7 linked regions of the Homo sapiens genome follow. The protein of the gene in region 5 interacts with the protein of the main gene of each other region in a biochemical or structural test. Each region holds a gene or a part of one and is shown on either strand. Other genes may lie near its edges. The genes, in order: MAPK9, EPS15, PLCG1, KHDRBS1, GRB2, MAP4K1 and PTPRA.

Evidence for each region.
Region 1: the proteins of GRB2 (region 5) and MAPK9 form a complex in vitro, tested with the Homo sapiens proteins (2 studies listed by BioGRID).
Region 2: the proteins of GRB2 (region 5) and EPS15 form a complex in vitro, tested with the Homo sapiens proteins (2 studies listed by BioGRID, with this or other methods).
Region 3: the proteins of GRB2 (region 5) and PLCG1 form a complex in vitro, tested with the Homo sapiens proteins (2 studies listed by BioGRID).
Region 4: the proteins of GRB2 (region 5) and KHDRBS1 form a complex in vitro, tested with the Homo sapiens proteins (3 studies listed by BioGRID, with this or other methods).
Region 6: the proteins of GRB2 (region 5) and MAP4K1 form a complex in vitro, tested with the Homo sapiens proteins (3 studies listed by BioGRID).
Region 7: the proteins of GRB2 (region 5) and PTPRA form a complex in vitro, tested with the Homo sapiens proteins (3 studies listed by BioGRID and IntAct).

Annotation. Positions count from the first base shown.
Region 1 is NC_000005.10:180,243,584-180,247,083, forward strand, and holds part of MAPK9 (mitogen-activated protein kinase 9), read right to left. Parts: exon of another isoform or gene 2,437-3,500; intron 1-2,436. UniProt on the Homo sapiens protein: Serine/threonine-protein kinase involved in various processes such as cell proliferation, differentiation, migration, transformation and programmed cell death.
Region 2 is NC_000001.11:51,404,267-51,407,766, reverse strand, and holds part of EPS15 (epidermal growth factor receptor substrate 15), read left to right. Parts: intron 1-1,658; coding exon 1,659-1,862; intron 1,863-3,500. UniProt on the Homo sapiens protein: Involved in cell growth regulation. May be involved in the regulation of mitogenic signals and control of cell proliferation. Involved in the internalization of ligand-inducible receptors of the receptor tyrosine kinase (RTK) type, in particular EGFR.
Region 3 is NC_000020.11:41,175,543-41,178,126, forward strand, and holds the end of PLCG1 (1-phosphatidylinositol 4,5-bisphosphate phosphodiesterase gamma-1), read left to right. Parts: 3' UTR 1-2,084; downstream 2,085-2,584. UniProt on the Homo sapiens protein: Mediates the production of the second messenger molecules diacylglycerol (DAG) and inositol 1,4,5-trisphosphate (IP3). Plays an important role in the regulation of intracellular signaling cascades.
Region 4 is NC_000001.11:32,016,868-32,020,367, reverse strand, and holds part of KHDRBS1 (KH domain-containing, RNA-binding, signal transduction-associated protein 1), read right to left. Parts: intron 1-3,500. UniProt on the Homo sapiens protein: Recruited and tyrosine phosphorylated by several receptor systems, for example the T-cell, leptin and insulin receptors. Once phosphorylated, functions as an adapter protein in signal transduction cascades by binding to SH2 and SH3 domain-containing proteins.
Region 5 is NC_000017.11:75,329,179-75,332,678, reverse strand, and holds part of GRB2 (growth factor receptor-bound protein 2), read left to right. Parts: intron 1-3,500. UniProt on the Homo sapiens protein: Non-enzymatic adapter protein that plays a pivotal role in precisely regulated signaling cascades from cell surface receptors to cellular responses, including signaling transduction and gene expression.
Region 6 is NC_000019.10:38,600,954-38,604,453, reverse strand, and holds part of MAP4K1 (mitogen-activated protein kinase kinase kinase kinase 1), read left to right. Parts: intron 1-2,759; exon of another isoform or gene 2,760-2,928; coding exon 2,929-3,013; exon of another isoform or gene 3,014-3,041; intron 3,042-3,500. UniProt on the Homo sapiens protein: Serine/threonine-protein kinase, which plays a role in the response to environmental stress. Appears to act upstream of the JUN N-terminal pathway.
Region 7 is NC_000020.11:3,033,981-3,037,480, forward strand, and holds part of PTPRA (receptor-type tyrosine-protein phosphatase alpha isoform 1 precursor), read left to right. Parts: intron 1-920; exon of another isoform or gene 921-1,106; intron 1,107-1,604; coding exon 1,605-1,730; intron 1,731-1,809; coding exon 1,810-1,961; intron 1,962-3,173; coding exon 3,174-3,309; intron 3,310-3,500. UniProt on the Homo sapiens protein: Tyrosine protein phosphatase which is involved in integrin-mediated focal adhesion formation.

The sequences.
Region 1 (3,500 bases), on a different chromosome or scaffold from region 5:
AAGTGCTCACTGAGGCATGTCTTAGAAAAATGAACTTACATCACCATGAAATAACCTAGGGAACTGGTACATGAACTCAGTTCTTCCAAAATGTTATACTTCCAAAAGACCCGCTCAGGAAATGTGTTTCTGGCATTCAATTCACTAGCAAATTCTCCTTCCTACTCCTGGTTCATACATATTGTCAAATCAGAATTATGCCCACATTTTATTTACCTATTTAGCCAAAATGTGAAAACTGTCTCACACCTTTTCCTTCTGCCATATATACATATATAAATAAAGACAGAGTCTCGCTCTGTCGCCCAGGCTGGAGTGCAGTGGCATGATCTCGGCTGACTGCAACCTCCACCTCCCGGGCTCAAGTAATTCTCGTGCCTCAGCCTCCCAAGTAGCTGGGACTACAGGCACCTGCCATAACGGTCGGCTAATTTTTGTTATTTTTAGTAGAGATGGGGTTTCGCCATGTTGGCCAGGCTGGTCTGGAATTCCTGGCCTCAAGTGATCTGCCTGCCTCGGCCTCCCAAAGTGCTGGGATTATAGGTGTGAGCCACTGCGCCCAGCCCACCTTATACTTTTGATACCTCTTCTGCCTGCTCACTCCCACAGACTTCCCAGGATGCACCCACCCAGCATCTGTGTGCCATTTGCCACACAGCAACCATCTGGGCTCCCGGCTACACTAAGCCTGCTCAGCTCTAGACCCTAACCCCCCTGACTCAAGGACAAGCTCCCTCAACTCTTCCTTCTCCAACATCATCGACATTTTGCACTCTACCAATACATTCCACCACGTTGGTAAATGATGGTGTTTTCTCCTATGTTAACACAGTAGCTGCTTTCCTTTGGCCCTACCTATCGCTTTATTTCTTATTCCTATTTGCAGCAAAAACTTCCATAAAGAGCTGTCGGTCGGGCTCAGTGGCTCACACCTGTAATCCCGGCACTTTGGGAGGCCGAGGCAGGTGGATCACAAGGTCAGGTGTTCAAGACCAGCCTGGCCAAGACGGTGAAACCCTGGCCCTACTAAAAATACAAAAATTAGCCAGGCGTGGTGGCGGGCGCCTGTAATCCCAGCTACTCGGGAGGCTGAGGCAGAAGAATCGCTTGAACCCAGGAGGTAGAGGTTGCAGTGAGCTGAGATCGCATCGCTGCCCTCCAGCCTGGGCAATGGAGTGAGACTCTGTCTCAAAGGAAAAAAAAAAAAAAAAAAGGAAAGAAAAAAGAGCTGTCTACACTTGTGTCTCTAATTCCCAGCCTCTCATTTTCTCTCAAACATACTCCCATCAGGCTTTCTTCCCTCCACTCCATAAATGCTGTGCCCATCATGGCTGCCAGCAGCCATCACAAGGCCCAGGGGCCAATCCCCCGTCCTCATCTCCTCATGTGAATGAGCCTCCCTCAGTCACCACACTCTAGGAGGAGGGGTCACGTGAGTGCCTTCTCCATTTCCTTCCCTATTCCCTTTGTCCCTCCACCTCAAGGGGGCTAAGTCCCGGGTCCTGGTCTCTTCCTCCCCTGCAAGTGCTCGCTACCAGTCCTAGGCTTCAAGGCTACCGACAGACGGATGACACCCACTTTGATCTCTCTATCCCAGACCTTGCCCCTAAATTCCACTGTCTAACAGACATCTCCAAACCCTAGCAAGGCTCCTTGAAGGGTCCAGCTTCAAAGCAGAGTACAAGCCCATCTCCCCGGCCACACCCCTACCCGCCTGCTGGGGGCCTCCACCTCTCCTCTGGATGATGGCAGCCTCTGCTCTGTTCTCCTGCTCTGCCCTGCCCTTGACGATCCACCCTCAATTCAGCAGCTGGGAGGAGCCTCTTTGCATCTCAGTCAGACTAGGCACCCAGAAATGGGCAGGTGAGAGAAATATCTGCTGGGTTAATGATAAAGGACTAGAAATTAAACCAGTTGTGAGAGGAGACCCACAGATTCCCCGAGAGGACTCCACCCCAGCATCCTACAGGTGGGAGGGATGGGGGACAGATGAGAGGGACGGGGGAAGGGGAACAATAATTCCGACAAGCCCAGTGGACCCTGTTGTCTAACTCTCGTGAAGCTGCAGGCAGACCACAGGTCTATTTTACAGAAGGGGAAACCAAGGCTCAGAGAGGCCCTAAATTTCTCAAGGATGCATGGCTGCCAAGGGGAGGAGTCTGAGCTGGGGCCCGAGGTGGCCGGGCTAAAGCTTTCTCTTTCTCATAGACCACCGCAGGGACAGGAGTTCCTTTTCTACCCTGGGTCGCAAATTAAAGCAAATCTCTGAGACCCTCAGTCTGATTTCTGCAACTTTTTTCTATCTCCCAAATTTCAATCTAATATTTGAAAGAGTTGGCAAAATTTTCTTTAGAAAATGATGTTAAACTCTGTGTGGCTTTTGGGAATAACATTAGGTAACCTTATATATAACACTATTAATTACTGACATTAATGTTCATATGTATAGCAGGAATTTTAATTTTACTTACTAAAATGCACCAAAAAGTACTCACATTTTTCATTTTTGTACTTTTTGAAGAAAACATTTTGTAATAAAACAAGGAATGGCACAAAATGAGTAAGAATTGAGACAAACTGAACATTAAGTAGATATTTCTAAATTATTAGTCTTTTAATTTTTCAACTTTTCCCTTTTTAATTAAGTTTACTTGCAAAATAAAGACGTCCTTATTTATAGGTTGCAACAAGTGAATCTGAGATGAGGCTATGGAAACTGCTAGAAAATTTAGTAGAACAAATAAAATAACTTGACATATTATATAATCTATGATATAGAAAATGTAAAGAAAGGTAAATAAAATGAGAGAAATAAAAATATTTTCACTTTAAGTTTGCACTGTGAAGAATTTATAAGGAGACCACTTTGATAAAATTATTAAAATCTGAAATTATTTTCCTAAGATACATACAAAACACTGACTATGGAGCTTGATTTCCTTAAAAGCAACCATCAATCTGCCCAAGGATGGAGACCAATTTAAACTTTCATAACGAAAACAAAGTCAAAGACTAATGAAAAACTAAGTGGTTAAAACACAAATGAAAAAGGGAAGATGTGAAGAACCATGTTAGGGTAAAAAATACTGAGGATGGAAGAATGGCAAATGAGGAAAGAAGGCTATTGTAACAATTAGAGTAGTTATTCTCCTTTCTGCTGTATCTCTAACATGACTTGCTGACTACAGTATGAGTTTATCTCTTTCATTTTACATTTATTTTGACTTCCCCAGTGTGTCACAAAATAACCCACTAGACAGATTTTTAAAAAAAATTCTACAAAATGTCAGCACAGTAACAAACAAGAAAGTTTAACATATTGTTCCTCACAAAATTTTCATTTTAATCTCTTTCACTTAGGTCCTTTGTAATGTGCTTCAGTTCTTACTTTGGGGGAAAATATTTCAATGCATACCAGTAACTAACAAAATAGTACTTAATTAAAGCACACAAGCACACTAGCCTATTAAATTTAGATAGCATCTTTCCTAGTTAAATTA
Region 2 (3,500 bases), on a different chromosome or scaffold from region 5:
ACCTGTAAGACATTTTAGCATGGTGCTTGGTACATAAATGCTCCATAAGTGTTGCCTGTTTTATAAACAATAACCTAGTTTCTTCTGTTTTGTGATTCTAATTTTGAATTCACATTTGCTAATTTGGAAACTTTTTTCTTAAGGAAATTGTTCCTTCTGTAGATAAATTTGCAGTGTTATAGTTGGTCTTATGTATAGATCCTTTGCTTTATTTCCAGGTTTCCCTACATGAAGACTAATGTTTTAATGAATGATAAGATAGTTAGGGCTCGGCATGGTGGTGGCCCATGCCTGTAATCCCAGCACTTTGGGAGGCTGAGGCAATGGATCACTTGAGGCCGGGAGTTCGAGACCAGCCCTGCCAACATGGCCAAACTCTGTTTCTACTAAAAGGTACAAAAATTAACTGGGCATGGTGGTACCTGCCTGTAATTCCAGCTACTTGGGAGGCTGAGGCACGAGAATCACTTGAGCCTGGGAGGCAGAGGTTGCAGTGAGCTCAGATCACACCACTGCACTCCACCCTGGGCAACAGAGTGAGAATCTGTCTCAAAAAATAAAAACTAAAAAAAAAAGGATAGAAACACAGAGATCATGGAGTTGATTTCTTTCATTATGAATTTGAACAAACTAAAGCCAAGGAAGTTCAAGTAACTTTCTCAAGGTTACATATCCTTGAAAAGAGCTACATCTAAAATCCAGTTCTTCTAAAACCCAGTCCAGTGTGCTCAGTTATTACATATAATGAAGTCCTTCACTTTTGCGCTTCCTTACCCCCTGTTATCTGGCAGCTGAGTACCTACCTACTCATTCGTCATGCAAGATATACCTTAAATTCTTATTTCTTTATGGTATTTTCTGCATCCTGCTTTTGTTGGACTTTGTATTTATGTTACAGCAATAATAAGATTTTTCCCTGCATATTTGCTTATATGTCTGTCTCCCCTAGCAGAGTCATGGTTTTGGTCTGGGAACTTACACATTTTTAAAAATCCGTATCATTTAGCACAGTTCTTGTCCCAGTGTAGGTACTCAATAAACAGGTAACCTGAAAGAGTTGTTGTAGTGAGAATGCTACCAGATGAATGGGTATTCTTTAAAGTATTTTCTTTTTTTGAATCTCTTTAAAAAAAAAATCCATGTATACTAAAATTTCAAGAGAGAAATACTTATTGTCAGAAATTACTGAATCTTTTCTCTAAGTCACGTAGCATTCCCAGAGGATTCTTCTTAAAGGAAGCAAATGTATCCTAGACCAAGTCTACAGGTATAGCCATTTTTATTTTATTTATTTTTTTGAGACAGGGTCTCATTCTGTCACTCGAGTGCAGTGGTGTGATCATGGCTCACTGCAGCCTTGACCTCTGGGCTCAAGTGATCCTCCCATCTCAGCCTTCTGAGTAGCTGGGACTACAGGTGCACTCCATCATGCCCAGCTAATTTTTATATTTCTTGTAGAAATGAGGTTTCACCGTGTTGCTCAGGCTGGTCTTGAACTCCTGGGCTGAAGCAGTCCTCCTGCCTCAGTTTCCCAAAGTGTTGAGATTATAGGCATGAGCTACCACACCTAGCCCGTCAGGAAGTGGAGGAGGGCGTTTTTATGTTACATGTCTTTCTAGTAATAAATTCTGTTCTATATTTCTTCTTTGTGTTGGCAGATGCAAATGAAACTGATGGAAATGAAAGATTTGGAAAATCATAATAGTCAGTTAAATTGGTGCAGTAGCCCACACAGCATTCTTGTAAACGGAGCTACAGATTATTGCAGCCTCAGCACCAGCAGCAGTGAAACAGCCAACCTTAATGAACATGTTGAAGGCCAGAGCAACCTAGAGTCTGAGCCCATACACCAGGAATCTCCAGTGAGTCTAATACTTTCATAACCTTCATAATCAACCTCCTTGTGCAGATCCAAGTTTCACTGACATTATATCTAATATAAATACATGGCCTTGCCTCATCTGAGGACAATTGAGATTTCCTTTTTAGAAGCAGAGAGTCCTAATCCAAACAATTGTACGTTTTAACTAGTATAAAAAGATAACTTTAGCTAATTTTTTTTTTTTTGGAGATGGAGTTTTGCTCTTGTTGCCCAGGCTGGAGTGCAGTGGTGCGATCTTGGCTTACTGCAACCTCCGTCTCCTGGGTTCAAGCAATTCTCCTGCCTCAGCCTCCTGAGTAGCTGGGATTACAGTCACGTGCCACCACACTCAGCTAATTTTTTGTATTTTTAGTAGAGATGGGGTTTCATCATGTTGGCCAGGCTGGTTTCGAACTCCTGACCTCAAGTGACCCATCTGCCTCGGCCTCCCAAAGTGCAGGGATTACAGGCGTGAGCCACCACGCCCAGCCAGCTAATTTATTTTTTGTAGAGCCTGTTTTTAAAATGGTGGTTCTATAGAGTAAAACTTTTTTTTTAAGTACCCTCACCAAAAGCTAAAATTATTTTTATTACGTAGTGTTAAGGACATTCATTTACCAATTATTTGACGAGTACCAACTATGTGCAAGAGTGCTGTATTACATAATATAAGAGCTACAGAGACAAGAGACCTCAGTCTTTCCTTCAAGCAGCCTACAGTGTAGTAGTGTAACACTGTGTTAAAGGGCTGTGCTAAAGGAAGCGCAGAATTTTCAGTTAGGACAGTTTGGAGGGGGTTCATAAAGATTTTGTTGGGGAAAGCTTTGCGAGTTTAGACAAGTGAGAAGTGGTTAAGCAAAGAAGAGGAGGATACATTCCTGCCAGAGAAAACAGTATTAGTATAGGTACAAGGTGGAAGAATACATGCAGCACAGAATCTTGAGAAGTTCTGAAGGATATCTTGTGATGGTGGAGAGGGTATTGGTAAGAGATGAGGCGCTTCTAGTAGGCATCTGCATTACCTCTGGTGATTGTCAAAGTATAAATGTGTATCCCTTTCCCCAAACTTGCTGAACTAGTTTCTGGGATAGAGCCAGATATGTATATTTTAAAAACACACTCTATGGGTGATTGTCATGTGCACCTGGATAAAAATGACCAATTTTAGGTCAGAAAGTGCCAGAAGATGAGAAATTTAGATTCATCTTAAAGCATTGGGGGATTTATCCTACTGCAATGAACAGCCATTGAAGAATTTTAAGCAAGAAGTGACGTGATTAACTTTTAGAAATGTGGAAAACGGATTAGAGAGTGAGACTGTACCCGTAGAAGGGATAATGAGAAGAATAGAAGTTTGAGAGGTATTAAAAGTGAAAAGTTAACAGACTCGATTTTATTTACACAGTGCAGTCATGTATGCATTATAAAATATTCTTTCAAGCGCAAAAGGCAGATTACTAGGTTATCCTGCAAATAGATAAGGGTGGTATAAAGTAGCTATTGCCCTGCTACTTTTTTTTTTTTTTTTGAGACGGAGTCTCGCTCTGTTGCCCAGGCTGGAGTGCAGTGGCGCAATCTCAGCTCACTGCAACCTCTGCCTCCTGGGTTCAAGCTATTCTCCTGCCTCAGCCTCCCGGGT
Region 3 (2,584 bases), on a different chromosome or scaffold from region 5:
CACCTCTGAGGACAGAGGCCGGGGTCCAGGCCCGTGGGCGCAAAGGTGCCTCATAGCATAGCCAGCATTCAGCACACACAAACCTACTGCCCACATTTGGGCTCAGGGTTGGCCATTTGCTAGTTCTGCTGCCCTCTTAAGATCTGACTGCCAAATAAATCATCCTCATGTCCTTTTTCCTTTGACTTGTATGCTCTTTCGGGGGCTCAGGAAAGCCTGTTGCATGGGACATGCTCACTAGAAACAGTCGCCAGATGATTATTCTGCAGTAGAAGCAGGTAGGAAATTTCTGGAAATTTCTCAGGTTAAGCAGCAAGAGCTGTAACCCCTCCTCTGGGCTAACAGGAGTTGTGGGTCCACTCTCTCCTGCCCACCCTCTGAGGGTGTGTCTGAGCAGAGTACATCCTGCCTGGGTTCTTTGTGGCCAGCCAGTTTTGGTGGTGAGCTGGAAACAACCAGAGCCCCTTTCCAGTTCCACAGAAACCTCTCCTTTCAAAAATGTTGCATTCAGTTCGTTAACACTGCCAGGTGCCATTCTGATTGCCTCTAGGACTTGGCAGCTGAAATCTCTGGGCCCTTTCAACACAGTTGAAAGGCCCTTCTCTTCCTGAAGCTCTGTTTCCATAGTTGGCTGTGCTGGGATGGAACAAAAATGACGCCACACAAAAAATTTAAGATAGATCCGGTTCCGTGGATGACATGAACTGATGATAGCCAGTATCAAACAGCGATAGTGCTCAGGTTCTTGTGTGACTTTCTTTTACAGCTTCACAGTCCCAGTTCATAGAGAGGAGGGTGGCTTTTTCCCATACACAAGAAGGTGGTGGGTGGGAATTCACCTGGGCCCTCATGATCCATGTTTCCTCTCTAGGTTTTTATGGCCTGGAGAGAAAGGTTTCCTATCAGAGAAGGAAGAGGACTGTGTAGGCCCTTCTGTTAGGGCCCATCCACGTTGGTTAGGACGTCCTTGGCGTGTTTGTTAGTGTTGACCCTTTTAGTTTTCATCAATACGTATCTCTATTTGCTGAACAAGTGTCTTTCTGGAACACAACCTGGGGAACAGACAGCTCTGCCTTTCTTAAGGCAGCTTTGTAGACCTGAGGCTCACCTCTCTTGGGCTCTGTAAGACATTGCCTTTGCCTCACTGCAAATGTTTTGATTGTTCTTCCTAGTGGAAAACGTGCCAACTCTCAAGCAAATTTAAAGATCATTTTCACTTCAAGATTCCTCCAGACCTGACAAATGTTGATTGACCCAGAAGGCAGAGTGTTTGTTGGTGGGGAAGACCCTTACTTGGGGCCGAATGCTTTGGCATCAGGAGTTGTTTGCCCCATCCCATGCATGCAGGCCGTGTCCCTACAGTGCGACAGCTCAGGGTTATGACCTGTGGAGTCTCAACCCTAACAGCACATTAGCACCACTTGGGGAGCTTCTGAAAAATACTGGTACCCGGGGCCTTAGCATAGGTATTGTTCAAAACCTCTCAAGGTGATTTAAATGAGTAACAAGGGTTGAAAAACCCTGATTTTGGCAGCACAAACCAAAAGAGCAGGCAGGGCCGGGAGAGGGAAGTCAGTGGTACCAGAAGGTAGATGGGCTCCCTTGCAGGCTCCTTGTTCTCCTGCCATCACCAGTAGAACCTTCTGGCTGACAGACCAGGGACAAGTAGACTGGGTTCAAAGTGACAGACCTTTCACTTTCAACAGCTTTGGCTCAGCAGACATGTACACATACAAAGTAGAGCCTACAAGGTCAGGGGCATTCTGCCCCCGCCACAGGACTAAAGACTGCCCTGCGGGAAGATGGCAGGAGCAGTTTCTGACCTCAGTTGAGTATCTGTGGCCATGAGCAGAAAAGGCAGGGGTCTGCCTCCTGACCAAGCACATCTTGAACATCACCTGAGAGCTTGAACATCACTAAGGACCTAGACACTCACTTGTCTTTCAACTTGAGCCCATCACTCACCATGTGAGTTCTGTTGAGGGTGGGTAGAAAGCAAATAGGTTCAGGTTATCCCACCAGACTAACTCGGTGAATGAAAGGATCATGCCTTCTTCACATTTTAATTAAATGGATCAAGCACAGTCTCAGACTGCAACTCCTGTCTTCTCTGGGTACTTTAGTAATTCCCAGGGGACTTGTGCTTAGGGGTTAATCTAGGCATTCTGTTCCCTGCCTGGAGGAACCCCACAGCAACCCCCCTGGCTGGCCGCTCCTGCGAATTCCACCCATAGTATCCCAAGTGAGTCACTGCCTGAGTCTACCCACTACAGCATTCAGCTGATTGGCTTTGCCAGTTGCATGCCAGTTTGGTCTAGTTTCCAAGGACCTGGTTTTTGGGATTCAACACACACAGCTGCTTCCCCATGACATAAGCTGGACTCCTATTCTGGTGTCCAGAATCACTGCCTGGCTCCACTGTAGGTGATTTCATTTCAAAGGACCCTTTTTCCTTCTGTCCCAGGCCTTCAGGGCCACCCCAACAAAATTCAAATGCTTTGGGTCTTAGAAGCTGGGGCTTTAGTCTTTTTCCTCCAGAAAGCCCCTGGGTCCTTATGCATATTCCCTAACCCCCGACACCGCC
Region 4 (3,500 bases), on a different chromosome or scaffold from region 5:
GGCAGCCTCGACCTCCTGGGTTCAAGCGATTCTTCCACCTCAGCCTAAGACCAATCTCCTGGGTTCAAGTGATCCTTCTGCTTCAGGCTCCCGGGTAGTTGGGACTATGGGTGTGTGCCGCCATTCTCAGCTAATTTTTAAATTTTCTGTAGAGACAAGCTCTCACTAGGGCTCAAGCAATCCTCTCACCTTGGCCTCCCAAAGTCCTGGGATTACAGGCATGAGCCACCATGCCCAGCCAATAAGCACATTTAGTTTTGTAAAAAACAAAAAACAAACAAACAAACAAAACCTGCATTGGGCTGGGCATGGTGGCTCACACCTGTAACACAGGCACTTTGGGAGGCTGAAGAGGGAGGATCATGGTCAGGAATTTGAGACCAGCCTGGCCAACACGGTGAAACCCCATCTCTACTAAAAATACAAAAATCAGCCGGGCATGGTGGTGGGCGCCTGTAATCCCACCTACTCGGGAGGCTGAGGCAGGAGAACTGCTTGAAACCGAAAGGTAGAGGTAGCAGTCAGCCAAGATCGCGCCACTGCACTCCAGCGTGAGCGACAGAGCGAGACTCAATCTCAAAACAAACAAACAAACAAAAAAACAAAACCTGCAATATCACAGATAAATGTATACTTAATGATATTCTGCTTTATCTTACTAGGCTTTGTTTTATAGAAATAGTATTATACTGTATGTAGTCTTATGGGATGTACTTTCTTCATATAACATTAGATTTTGGAGATTTCTCCATGTTGTTGCCTGCAGCTATAGTTCATCCATTTTCACTGCTGTACAAATATTTTCTTTTTCTTTCTTTCTTTCTTTTTGTTTTTTTTTGAGATTGAGTTTCACTTGTTGGCTAGATCTCAGCTCACTGCAACCTCTGTCTCCCGGGTTTCAGCAATTCTCCTGCCTCAGCCTTCCAAGTAGCCGGCATTACAGGCACCTGCCACCACGCCCAACTAATTTTTGTATTTTTAGTAAAGACAGGGTTTCACCATGTTGGTCAGGCTGGTCTTAAACTCCTGACCTCAGTTAATCCACCCGCCTCTGCCTCCCAAAATGCTGGGATTACAGGCGTGAGAAACTGTGCCCAGCCAAATATTTTCTGTTGTAAATCTATCACATTATCCAATGAATGGTGAAACAAGTTGCAATGTTTTGTGAACAAGGTACACCATTTCATGAATCAAGTGCTCATGTATAAGTTTCTTTGAGCATATTCCTAGAAAAGGTGTTGCTGGTTTTTTGTTTGTTTGTTTGTTTTTTAAGACAGAGTCTCGCTCTGTCGCCCAGGCTGGAGTGCAGTGGCGGCGCAATCTCGGCTCACTGCAAACTCCACCTCCTGGGTTCAAGTGATTCTCCTGCCTCAGCCTCCTGAGTAGCTGGAATTACAGGCTCCCGAGTAGCTAGGATTACAGGCACGTGCCACCACACCCAGCTATCTTTTGTATTTTTAGTAGAGACAGGGTTTCACCATGTTGGTCAGACTGGTCTCGAACTTCTGACCTCAAGTGATCCGACTGCCTTGGCATCCCAAAGTGCTGGGATTACAGGCATGGGCCACCGCACCTGGCCTTACTCTCCAGTTTGTTTGTTTGTTTGTTTTTGAGACGGAGTCTCACTCTGTCCCCCAGGCTGGAGTGCAGTGGCGCGATCTCGGCTCACTGCAAACTCCGCCTCCCGGGTTCACGCCATTCTCCTGCCTCAGCCTCCCCAGTAGCTGGGACTACAGGCGCCCGCCACTGCGCCCGGCTAATTTTTTTGTATCTTTTAGTAGAGACGGGGTTTCACTGTGTTAGCCAGGATGGTCTTGATCTCCTGACCTCGTGATCCACCCGCCTCGGCCTCCCAACGTGCTGGGATTACAGGCGTGAGCCACCGCACCCGGCCTGTTTGCTTTTTTGAGACGGAGTCTCACACTGTCGCCCAGGCTGGAGTGCAGTGGTGCGATCTTGGCTCACTGCAACCTCCGTCTCCTGAGTTCAAATGATCTTCCTGCCTTAGCCTCCTGAGTAGCTGGGATTACAGGCGCCCACCACCACACCAGGGGTAATTTTTTGTATTTTTAGTAGAGACAGGGTTTCACCACGTTGGCCAGGCTGGTCTCGAACTCCTGACCTCGTGCTTTGCCTGCCTCGGCCTCCCAAAGTGCTGGGATTACAGGCATGAGCCACCAGGCCCGGCCCTTATTTTCCAGTTTTAAAAGCAGGTTTTGCTAGCCCTGTAGAATGAACTGGGAAGGTCTTAATGTATTTCTAGAGAATACTGTAAATAAAGGAATTAACTATTTTGAAGTTTCAACAGACTTTGTAAATGTTTTCCACTGTATGCTTTTGAAGGATGGATTTTTGAGTATCTCTCCAAGATCTTTTGCAGATTGCTAATCTATTCAAAATGTTTATTCTTGAGTCACTTATACTAACTTGTATTTCCCTAATTGTAGAAAGTAGAAAAATAGGCCGGGCGCAGTGGCTCATGCCTGTAATTCCAGCACTTTGGGAGGCCGAGGCAGGCGGATCACCTGAGGTCGGGAGTTTGAGACCAGCCTGACCAACATGGAGAAACCCCGTCTCTACTAAAAATACGAAATTAGCCGGGCGTGGTGGCACATGCCTATAATCCCAGCTACCAGGGAAGCTGAGGCAGGAGAATTGCTTGAACCTGGGAGGTGGAGGTTGCGGTGAGCCAAGATCGCGCCATTGCACTCCAGCCTGGGCAACAAAAGTGCAACTCCGTCTCAAAAAAAAAAAAAAAAAAAAAAAAGTAGAAAAAGAACACTGGTATCTATACAACAGCATTTTACTTACTATATAAATATATTAACACAATAAGGTAAATTATTTCTCTTCCAGAAAACAAAGATAGATGATTGAATCCTTATGTCTGCAGACACATTCGAATATATACAACAGCATTTTACTTAGTATATAAATATATTAACACAATAAGGTAAATTATTTCTCTTCCAGAAAACAAAGATGGATGATTGAATCCTTATGTCTGCAGATACATTCGACAGTCATCACAGCTGAATATCAATCTGGCTAACATAGAAGTCTACATTCAAAATCTACATCCCTCAAAATTTTGTCTTTTTTTTTTTTTTGAGACGGAGTCTTGCTTCTTCACCCAGGCTGGAGTGCAATGGTGCAATCTGGGCTCACTGTAACCTCCAACTCCCGGTTTCAAGTGATTCTCCTGCCTCAGCCTCCCAAGTAGCTGGGATTACAGGCATGTGCCACCACGCCCGGCTAATTTTTGTATTTTTGGTAGAGACGGGGTTTCACCATGTTGGCCAGGCTGGTCTTGAACTCCTGACCTCAAGTGATCCGTCTGCCTCAGCCTCCCAAAGTGTTGGGATTATAGGTGTGAGCCACCGTGCACGGCTGTCATCATTTTTTCATCAGTCCCATCTTCAATGAAGGTGAATATGTATTATTTCGTGAAATATTTAATAAGAGGCCACTCTGTGCAGCACTCTTCAAGGCATAGAAGA
Region 5 (3,500 bases):
TTGGAAGGGTTGGACCCACCTCCTTGTTTCAAACACTCTTTTTAAAATTGAGATCACTGGGATGGATGTCATACTTTTTATTCACGTTTCTAGGGAATTAACAAAGGATATTGATTGTGCATGTTAATAGTATATAATAATATATCATAGTCAATAATATTATATGTTTTAGATTGATAATAACTGTCAGTGATCTTCAAAAATAAAACGATAGTTGGTGCAGGTCCGTAATTCTTTTTCTGTTAAATATGTCTTAGAGCCAGATGTGTTTTATAATTCTGCATTTTTTTTGAGTTTTAGAAAAGGTACTTAGATGATTTTGTGTTTATATGTGCTAATGCTGTGGGACGGTATCTTAATATCTTTGTATCCCCAGAGTACGGTGCTTGGCATCTAATAGTTCTCAATAAATGTTTATCCCTCCATCTTAGTGTTCCTACTTACAAGAGAACAAAATATGCTGTCCTCCAGGCTGCTGGGAGCAGTGAATATTTTTAATTTTTTTTCAGAAGCTACCCTTGTCACGATTTTATTAATAACGCAACATAGTGGACCCCTGAGAGCCCCTGCAGACCACTGTCCTCCCGTTCTCACCCACCCCTCATTCACAGGCCCTGCTCCTAGCACAGAAGCAGTTGCTGGCTTGCCTTACAAGTGTGTCAGGGGAGCTGAGGCTTTCCACGCTCAGACTAGAATGCCCTTGGACATTGTCCACTTGCTTTCACAGCAGCTGGTGGCGGAGACTTTCAGGTGGCTTGTCGCATCTTGAGTGGGAGGGGCCTGTTGGATCACAGCACATCCTCCCCAGGTCCCATATAAGCCACATAATTTGTGTACTTCTGTTTCCTTCAGTCGTCCTCAAAAGAAACTGTAGGTCAAGGGTTGGCTAAACTTTTTCTGTGAAGAGCCAGATAGCAAGTAATTTCGACTTTGTGGGCTGCATACAATCCTGTCAAATATTCCTTGTAAAAATTTTCTTTTAACAATCGAGTAGAAATTTAAAAAACAGTCTTAGGTTGTGGGCAGATTTGGGCAGAAGGCCATTATTGTTTGCTGGCTCCTTCATTAGATCCAAACACAACATCGACTTCAGTTCCCTTTTGTTTTCATATTTTCAGATTGAAAGGGAATTCAACAGAACATCATACTACACTTCTTATATGACATGCCTGTGGCTCGAAATTCTTATTTTTCTTCAGTGTTTCGGGTGACACAGGCATTTAAATCTGACTGTTGAGGAAAGATAGGAAAGGCTACCTTCCTTGGAAAGTTGTAGTTACTGCCAGGCTGACTGGGACAGTCACTCCCTTGCCTTGACCTTTTGTCCCCACTATGAAGAACTTTAGAAGAATTGATGGAGAAGCACCCAGCACAGGCTCAGCTGTGTTGTTATTTGCAGACTCTGCCCAAAGGGTGGGCAGTGCTCAGCCACTCTGAGCTCTGAAAAGGCAACTAGCAACTTAAAAACCCTTATTTATTCAGGTCTACCATATTGCTAACAAAGACCATGCTTGTGCCTATGTAGGTGTTTGGCCTTGCAGACGTAGTTGCTGTTGTATAGGGCTGCTCTGTGGCTGGATGTTCATGAGTATAGGGTCAGGGTCAGTACCAGGCCTTCTCCTCCACATCCTACCACCTCCTGTTTTTTTGTTTGTTTGTTTGTTTGTTTGTGGGGGTGGGGAGCAGGGGTTATGGAGGAAGAGGGAAGCATAAAATGTAGCACCATGTCAGCTAATGCAGCATTCAAGTTAACAAATTAGACTACAAAATGATTGTTGGCATTAGTGCTGCAGCATGAGTTGTATATGCTTGAGGGGTGGATCCAAATATGTGCTTTTCACACTAAATGCATATGGATGGGAGCCTACGGGATGTAGTAAAGAATTATATTGGAAAATTAGCCTTCTCCCCTCACCCCCTTAGCTCTCGCCCTTGCTATTTCTGTTGTATAAGCCCACCTTTTTTTTTTTTGTTTTTTGTTTGTTGTTGTTCTTGTTGTTTTTATGAGACGGAATCCTGCTCTGTTGCCCAGGCTGGAGTGCAGTGGTGCTATCTCAGCTCACTGCAACCTCCGCCTGCTGGGTTCAAGCGATTCTTGTGCCTCAGCCTGCCGAGTAGCTGGGACTACAGGCGCGTGCCTCCACTCCCGTCGAATTGTTGTATTTTTAGTAGAGATGGGGTTTCACTGTGTTGGCCAAGCTGATCTCGAGCTCTTGGCCTAAAGTGCTGGGATTACAGGTGTAAGCCACCGCACCCTGCCAAAGCCCATCTTTTGTTTGTTTGTTTGTTTGTTTGTTTGAGATGGAGTCTCGCTCTGTCGCCAGGCTAGAGTGCTGTGGCGCGATCTCGGCTCACTGCAACCCCCAACTCCCTGGTTCAAGGGATTCTCCTGCCTCCACCTCCTGAGTAGCTGGGATTACAGGCATGTGCCACCATGCCTGGCTAATTTTTGTATTTTTAGTAGAGATGGGGTTTCACTGTGTTGGTCAGGATGGTCTCAATCTCCTGACCTCCTGATCCGCCCGCCTCGGCCTCCCAAAGTGCTGGGATTACAGGTGTGAGCCACCACACCCGGCCCAAAGCCCATCTTTTTAAAGACTTTCAAAACATTTGCCTGTTAGAGCTTGCAGCAAGCCAAGATCACGCCACTGCACTCCAGCCTATTCAACAAAGCAAGACTCTGTCTCAAAAAATAAAAAATAAAAAAAATTCACCCGTAAGCATGTAGTCACATGTACATATCATCATTTTAAAAAGTCAAATTTATAAATGATATAAAATGCTATAGAAATGTAGAATGGTGGTATTTCAGTGTTTTAGTAGTGACAGCTATTCACAGGGTCTTGCTCTGTCATCCAGGTTGGGCTCAAGTTATCCTCCCACCTTAGTCTCCTAAGTTGCTGCGTCTACAGCTGTGCACCACTATGCCTGGCTAATTTTTTATTTTTCGTAGAGACAGGGTCTCACTGTGTTGCCCGGGCTGGTCTTGATCTACTGGGCTTAAGCAATCCTCCCACCTTAGCCTCCCAAAGTGCTGGAATTAACAGGCGTGAGCAACTGCACCTGGTGCCAGATTTTTTATTTCTTGATCTGGGTGCTTATAACAGAGTTGTGGTTTTTTTGGTTTTTGGTTTTAATTCCAGTTAGAGTACTTTTTAAACATTATAATTTGTACTTCACTACAATTTATTTTTTTTAATTGAAAATAAAATTGCGTTAATTTTAAGCTGGGGGCAAGAAAACACAGCAGCCATGTCTATGTGACACCAGACAGAAAGGTCTGGAAACCTAAGTGTTAGAACCGCCAACACGTGCTGCCTCTGGGGAGTTTGAGGGAAGCATCTTACTTTTTATGTTTGCTTCATGTACATCTAGGCTATTTCAGTTTATATTCATTATTTTATACCTACAAATGGGAAAAAACCTCCCTAGTGGAGAGATCTTGGGGGCCTAGGAGGAAAGAGAGCCTTGCTGATTGAGAATCTTCACCCTCACCATTG
Region 6 (3,500 bases), on a different chromosome or scaffold from region 5:
ACTTGGGAAGCTGAGGTGGGAGGATTGCTTGAGTCCAGAAGTTAGAGTCTTTTGACAAGATCCATCAAAACCTCCATGAGTCACTACCACATATGCAGTTGCCCAAAGAGCCAAGATCTCAAGAAATTTTACCTCTCATAAATGGAGATGTACAAAAAGAACATCTCTTTATTCAGGAAGTTTCAGTGTTTTTACGTACATGCATAATGCCTACACACGTAGTCAGTGTTGTGATAATGCACCTTTGTGGCATCAAATTTGCCAACAAATGCATAAAATGAATTAGAACTCTCTAAAGTCTTTTTTTTTTTTTTTTTTTTTTTTTGAGATAGTATCTCGCTCTGTCGCCCAGGCTGCTGGAGTGCAGTGGCGCGATCATGGCTCACTGCAGCCTTGACCTCGGAGACTCAAGCAATCCATGCACCTCACCCTCCCTAGTAGCGCTTGGCTAATTTTTTTTTTTTTTTTCTGAGATGGAGTCTCACTCTGTCGCCCAGGCTGGAGTGCAGTGGTGCTATCTTGGCTCACTGCAACCTCTGCCTCCCCAGTCTAAGTGATCCTCCTGCCTCAGCCTCCTAAGTAGCCATGACTACAGGCGCCCACCACCACGCCCAGCTAATTTTTGTATTTTTAGTAGAGACGGAGTTTTGCCATGTTGGCCAGGCTGGTCTCAAACTCCTGACCTCAAGTTATCTGCCAGCCTCGGCCTCCCAAAGTGCTGGCATTACAGGCGTGAGCCACCGCGCCCGGCCCAGCTTGGCTAATTTTTAAAAAAATGTTTTATAGAGGCAGGGTCTCACTATGTTGCCCAAGCTGGTCCTGAACTCCTGGGCTTAAGTGATCCTCCCACCTCGGCCTCCCAAACTGGTGGGATTACAGCCGTGCCTGGTTGGCTACCGGCTAAAAGTATGTATAATTTATACCTCCAGCACTGGAAATGATTCAAAGATGAAATGCATAGCATAATTAATCATACATATATACATATACATATATACACACACATATACATGTATATGTGTGTATATATGTATACGTGTATATATATGTATATGCATATATATGTACATGTGTATATATGTATATGTGTGTATATATGTATATGTGTATATATGTATATGCGTATATATGTACATGTGTATATATGTATACATGTATGTGTGTGTGTATATGTATGTGTATATATGTATATGCGTATATATGTACATGTGTATATATATGTGTATATGTATATGTGTATATATGTATGTGTATATATGTATATGCGTATATATGTACATGTGTATATATGTATACATGTATATGTGTGTATATATGTATATGCGTATATATGTACATGTGTATATATGTACATGTGTATATATGTACATGTGTATATATGTATATGTGTATATGTATATGCGTATATATGTACATGTGTATATATGTATACATGTATATGTGTGTATATATGTATATGTATATATGTATATGCGTATATATGTGCATGTGTATATGTGTGTATATATGTATGTGTATATATGTATATGCGTATATGTGTACATGTGTGTATATATGTACATGTGTATATAAGTATATATGTACATGTGTATATATGTATATGTGTATATATGTATATGCGTATATATGTACATGTGTATATATGTATATATGTATGTGTGTATATATGTATATGTGTATATATGTATATGCGTATATATGTACATGTGTATATATGTATACATGTATATGTGTGTATATATGTATACATGTATATGTGTGTATATATGTATATGCGTATATATGTACATGTGTATATATGTATATATGTATAGGTGTGTATATATATGTATATGTGTATATATATGTATATGCGTATATATGTACATGTGTATATATATGTATATATGTATATGTGTGTATATATATGTATATGTGTATATATGTATATGCGTATATATGTACACGTGTATATATGTATATATGTATATGTGTGTATATATGTATATGTGTGTATATATGTATGTGTGTGTGTATATATATGTGTGTGTGTGTGTGTGTGTCTATATATATATGTATATGTGTATATATATATATGCTGGCCAGGCACAGTGGCTCATGCCTGTAATCCCAGCACTTTGGGAGACCAAGGCAGACGCATCACCTGAGGTCAGGAGTTCGAGACCAGCCTGGCCAACATGGCGAAACCCTGTCTCTACTAAAATACAAAAATTAGCCAGGCGTGGTGTTGTGTGCCAGTAATCCCAGCTATTCAGGAGGCTGAGGCAGAAGAATTGCTTGAGCCCAGGAGGTGGAGGTTGCAGTGAGCTGAGATTGCATCACTGCACTCCAGCCTGGGCAACAGAGTGAGACTCCATCTCCAAAAACAAAACTGACAGCTGGGAGTGGTGCCTCACGCCTGTAATCTCAGCACTTTGGGAGGCTGAGGCAGGTGAATCACATGAGGCCAAGAGTTCAAGACCAGCCTGGGCAACATGGCAAAACTCCATCTCTACTAAAAATACAAAAATTAGCTGGGTGTGGTGGCACACGCCTTTGGTCCCAGCTACTCAGAAGGCTTAGGCATGAGAATCAGTTGAACTTGGGAAGCAGAGGTTGTAGTGAGCTGAGATCATGTCATTGCATTCCAGCCTGGGCAACCGAGTGAGACTCTGTCTTAAAAAAAACAAATGCTGATGATTTAGGATAGTGGAGGAAAAACTAAAAAAAGAAATATATAACAACAACAAAAAAAAACAAAAACAAACTGAAAAGAAAACTCAATGTATGAAAAAGTGTATTACAGGGATAGATTATGGGAAATTGCACCAAGGTAAGAGGCAGGATTTGAACCTTGGCACTCTCGCTCCAAAGTCGTAACCACTGCCCCTTCCTGTTCCCTGCTCTCTTTGCCGGATCTGCTGCCTGGCCCCGCGGCGACCTGCCCAGGGATGTGCCCTTCTCGTAAAGTTGTTCAATGGCTGCCCCCTCCGGATCCACAGCACGGCCGCCTGGACACATCCCTCCACCAAGGGTGGGCATTCTGGAGGGTCAAGGAGATCCTGTAGGGAATGGGAGAGCAAAAGTAGGGGTGGGGAGAAGCCTAAGGAAGGCACAAAGGCAGGGACGGGGAGGAGCTTAATGGAGTTGGGGTGTGGCCAGGCTGAAACAGGGGCGGAGCTTGTCCTTACACTCAGGATTTGGTGATCAAAGATGCATAGAGGGCAGCCAGGTGTGGTGGCTCACACCTGTAATCCCAGCACTTTGGGAGGCTGAGGCGGGTGAATCATTTGAGGTCAGGAGTTCAAGACCAGCCTGGCCAACATGGTGAAACCCCGTCTCTACTAAAAATACAAAAGAAGCTAGGTAGGCCGGGCATGGTGGCTCACGCCTGTAATCCCAGCACTTTGGGAGGCGGAGGCGGGCGGATCATTTGAGGTCAGGAGTTTGAGACCAGCCTGGCCAACGTGGTAAAACCTCGTCTCTACTAAAAACACAAAAATTAGCCAGGCGTGGTAGCA
Region 7 (3,500 bases), on a different chromosome or scaffold from region 5:
ACTTTTGATCAGATGTGGTGGCTCACGCCTGTGTAATCCTACCACTTTGGGAGGCTGAGGCAGGTGGATCACCTGAGGTCAAGAGTTTGAGACCAGCCTGGCCGACATGGTGAAACCCTGTCTCTACTAAAAATACAAAAATTAGCTAGGCATGGTGGCGCACACTTGTAGTCCCAGCTACTTGGGAGTCTGGGGTGGGAGAATCACTTGAAACTGGGAGGCGGAGGCTGCAGTAAGTCAAGATCATGCCACTGCACTCCAGCCTGGGCGACAGAGCAAGACTCTCTCAAAAAAGAAAAAAAAAATGAGACTCTTAGTGTTGATACCTAGTCCCTAGACTTGATATGTATTTCTGTCTGAGAGATCATGCTCAATTCCTCCAGCACACACACACTGTGGCTCACACCCATGGGGACCTTATGGTTCTGATGGTTTTAAAGGCCCAGTCTTCATCCCAGCTGAGACACTGTGTAAAGCAGTGTTGAGAAGGCACTGTGGTAGCAAAATCCATTCCACCCACCAGTGCCATAAAAACTAATATAATGCCTGATCGAGGTGAGCCTTAATGAGAATTTTTTTTTTTTTTTGGCTGTTCTGGTTGAAGAGAGGCCCAGGGCACCGATCCCTGAGGCATCCCCAGGGCTTCTAGAGAACATGGGTGGAAAAGCACTAGTCCAGGGCATGTTCTTGATTCAACACTTTAATAATCATGATTTTATTTGGACTGTGAGACTATTCACAATTTCTTTTTCTACTTAATTTTTTTCCAAATCTTTCAATGACATTATATGTATGGTTGAGAATTTTTCAATTGCCAGTAGTGAAGAATCTCAGATCTTACCCCCAAATTCTCTAAAGAAATGGGCAGCATAACTGTGTGATGTTATATTTATGTATTTATGCCTTGGCTTGTTCTGCAGACATTGAACAAATTCATTTACCAGATACTGAGAGCCTACCATGTGCCAGGCATTGTGCAAGGTGTGGGGAATACAGAGATGAAAAGAGACGCAGCCACTCCCACAAGGAGCTGTAGAGGGAAGTGAGCCAGGTGCAAGCAAAGACAGACAGTAGACCACCTCCTGCTCACTAGCAAGGACAGAAAGGCGAGTGCTAGCAACTTGAAGGTACCTTGCAGATCAAAGAGATAAAGGTAAAAGGGAGAAAGGATACTGTGGCCTGGGCGGTGGTGAAGCCCATGGCTGTGTGGGAATGTGAATTGGTTCTGATTTTCTGAATTAGCAGTCTGGCGGATGTAAGCAGCATTAAATATGAAAACACCCCATGGGAGAAAAAGAAAGGAATTGGAACAAAGATTTTCACTCGTCCTCCTCTCCCTGCAGCCACCAAGTATTGGATACCCTGTGAGCCTGTAGTCAGAGTCCTTTACAGACCCCGGCAGTGTTTTAGATGGTCTCTGGTGAGGATCGGAGGTTAATTGGAATGATGTGATATAATGATCCTGCAAGTTTTCAATACCTTGGGGACGAAGCGTATCAGCGTAAGAGGTGGCTGTACTGAGAGGGGTCAGGCTGCTCGTGGGCAGTGCTGCTTCTACACATGTGGTACTCTGAGCTCCTCACCTCTCCAACCTGTCTCTCCAGGAGAAGTGTGCCCAGTACTGGCCATCTGATGGACTGGTGTCCTATGGAGATATTACAGTGGAACTGAAGAAGGAGGAGGAATGTGAGAGCTACACCGTCCGAGACCTCCTGGTCACCAACACCAGGGTAAGATGGGTCGTGGGTGGACTCTGCCCACAGGAAAAGCAGGGTTACCCCTGCCTCCCTGATCCCCTTTTTTCCAAAGGAGAATAAGAGCCGGCAGATCCGGCAGTTCCACTTCCATGGCTGGCCTGAAGTGGGCATCCCCAGTGACGGAAAGGGCATGATCAGCATCATCGCCGCCGTGCAGAAGCAGCAGCAGCAGTCAGGGAACCACCCCATCACCGTGCACTGCAGGTATGGCTCACCCTTGCCCTCAGCGGGAGAGAGAAAGCGAGGAGGGGCAGATAGGGGAAGCTGATGACCATGGGTCAGACTGAAGAAAGCCATACAAGAGCAAGATATTGGTGAGCACATAGTAGTTGAGATTGATGCCAAGACAGGATTGGATGCTAAGAGAGAGGACCTTGGAGCTTGAACTTGGCACAATAAGTGCTAGGGGACTAATGTTCAGATAGTGGGCAGGAGAGCAGCAGGGGAGACTGGCAGTGGAGACCCCGGTTGTGCTATGAACAGAGGGTGAAAGAGAAGAGGAGTCAAGGGTGTCTCCCAGGTTTGAGCCTGGGTTGGTGTGACCAGCAGAAGAGAGACAGTAAAGAGGTTTGTTTGAGGGGAAAAGTTGAATTTTGTATGGGGCATGTTGCTGGAGGTTACGTTTTAGAAAAAATGCACTCCTTTACTTAGAATCCTAACAACAGCTTACAAGGCCCAATATGTTCTGAGGGGTCCCTGGCCAGGGCCGGGAGAGGATGGTGTGCACCATGGGCTGGCTCTGAGCACACTCCTGCCATGGGCCTGAGATGCCAGTTTCCCAGGCAGCCACAGGGCTTTGCCCAAGCCTTCCCTGAGTACCCTGCCAGAACTCCCACTCCTCTTTTCTCTTTCCTTACCACACATCTTCTTGTCTGGGGACATTGCTAAACCCCACAGTCCCTGCCTCAGAGTAGGCACTCAGTGTCTGGTGAGTGAATCAGCTGATGACATTGAATAGGGGGATATTGTCAAGGTCAGAGTCTGGATTCCGTGGATTTGGGAAGAAAGTGAAAGACATGGAAAGGAATCAGCAGATACACACCAGTGTAGGGAGTGGGGTTTGTCAGAAAAAGGGAAAGACAGGACTAGAGCTAGTTCTAACTGAGCGAACAGCAGGTCAGAACAACCTAGGCCAGCATGTGCAGGTGGACAGCAATGGCTCTGTGCTGGTGGGGTGTGAGTGAAGGTCGTCCCCCACGGTCCAACAGGTGAGTCCCTCCACAGCACATGGGGCCATGCAGGAAGGGCACAGGGTACACTGCCTCCCGACCCAGAACCCCTCCAGGCTGGTGGGTCCACAGGGCAAAGGCGAGCACCAGCTGCCTGCCCCCACCTCTTCTGCCACTCACCACTGTCACTCACCCCCTTGCACAGAGGGCCATCACAGGTGTGGTAAATGTGTCTGCTCTGTTGCAGCGCCGGGGCAGGAAGGACGGGGACCTTCTGTGCCCTGAGCACCGTCCTGGAGCGTGTGAAAGCAGAGGGGATTTTGGATGTCTTCCAGACTGTCAAGAGCCTGCGGCTACAGAGGCCACACATGGTCCAGACACTGGTATGCTGCCCACATATTTGTCCCTGCCACCACACCACCTGCAGCCCTTCTCTCAGGGAGGAGGCTCTTCAGAGGGGCCCACCCAGTAGTCAGAAGACTGTCTAAACACAGACCTGCCCTTGCCCTCCCAAGGTGCCCCAAATACACAGGAAACATTGGGAGGCAGGATGGCAGCAATGGGAGCATAGCCC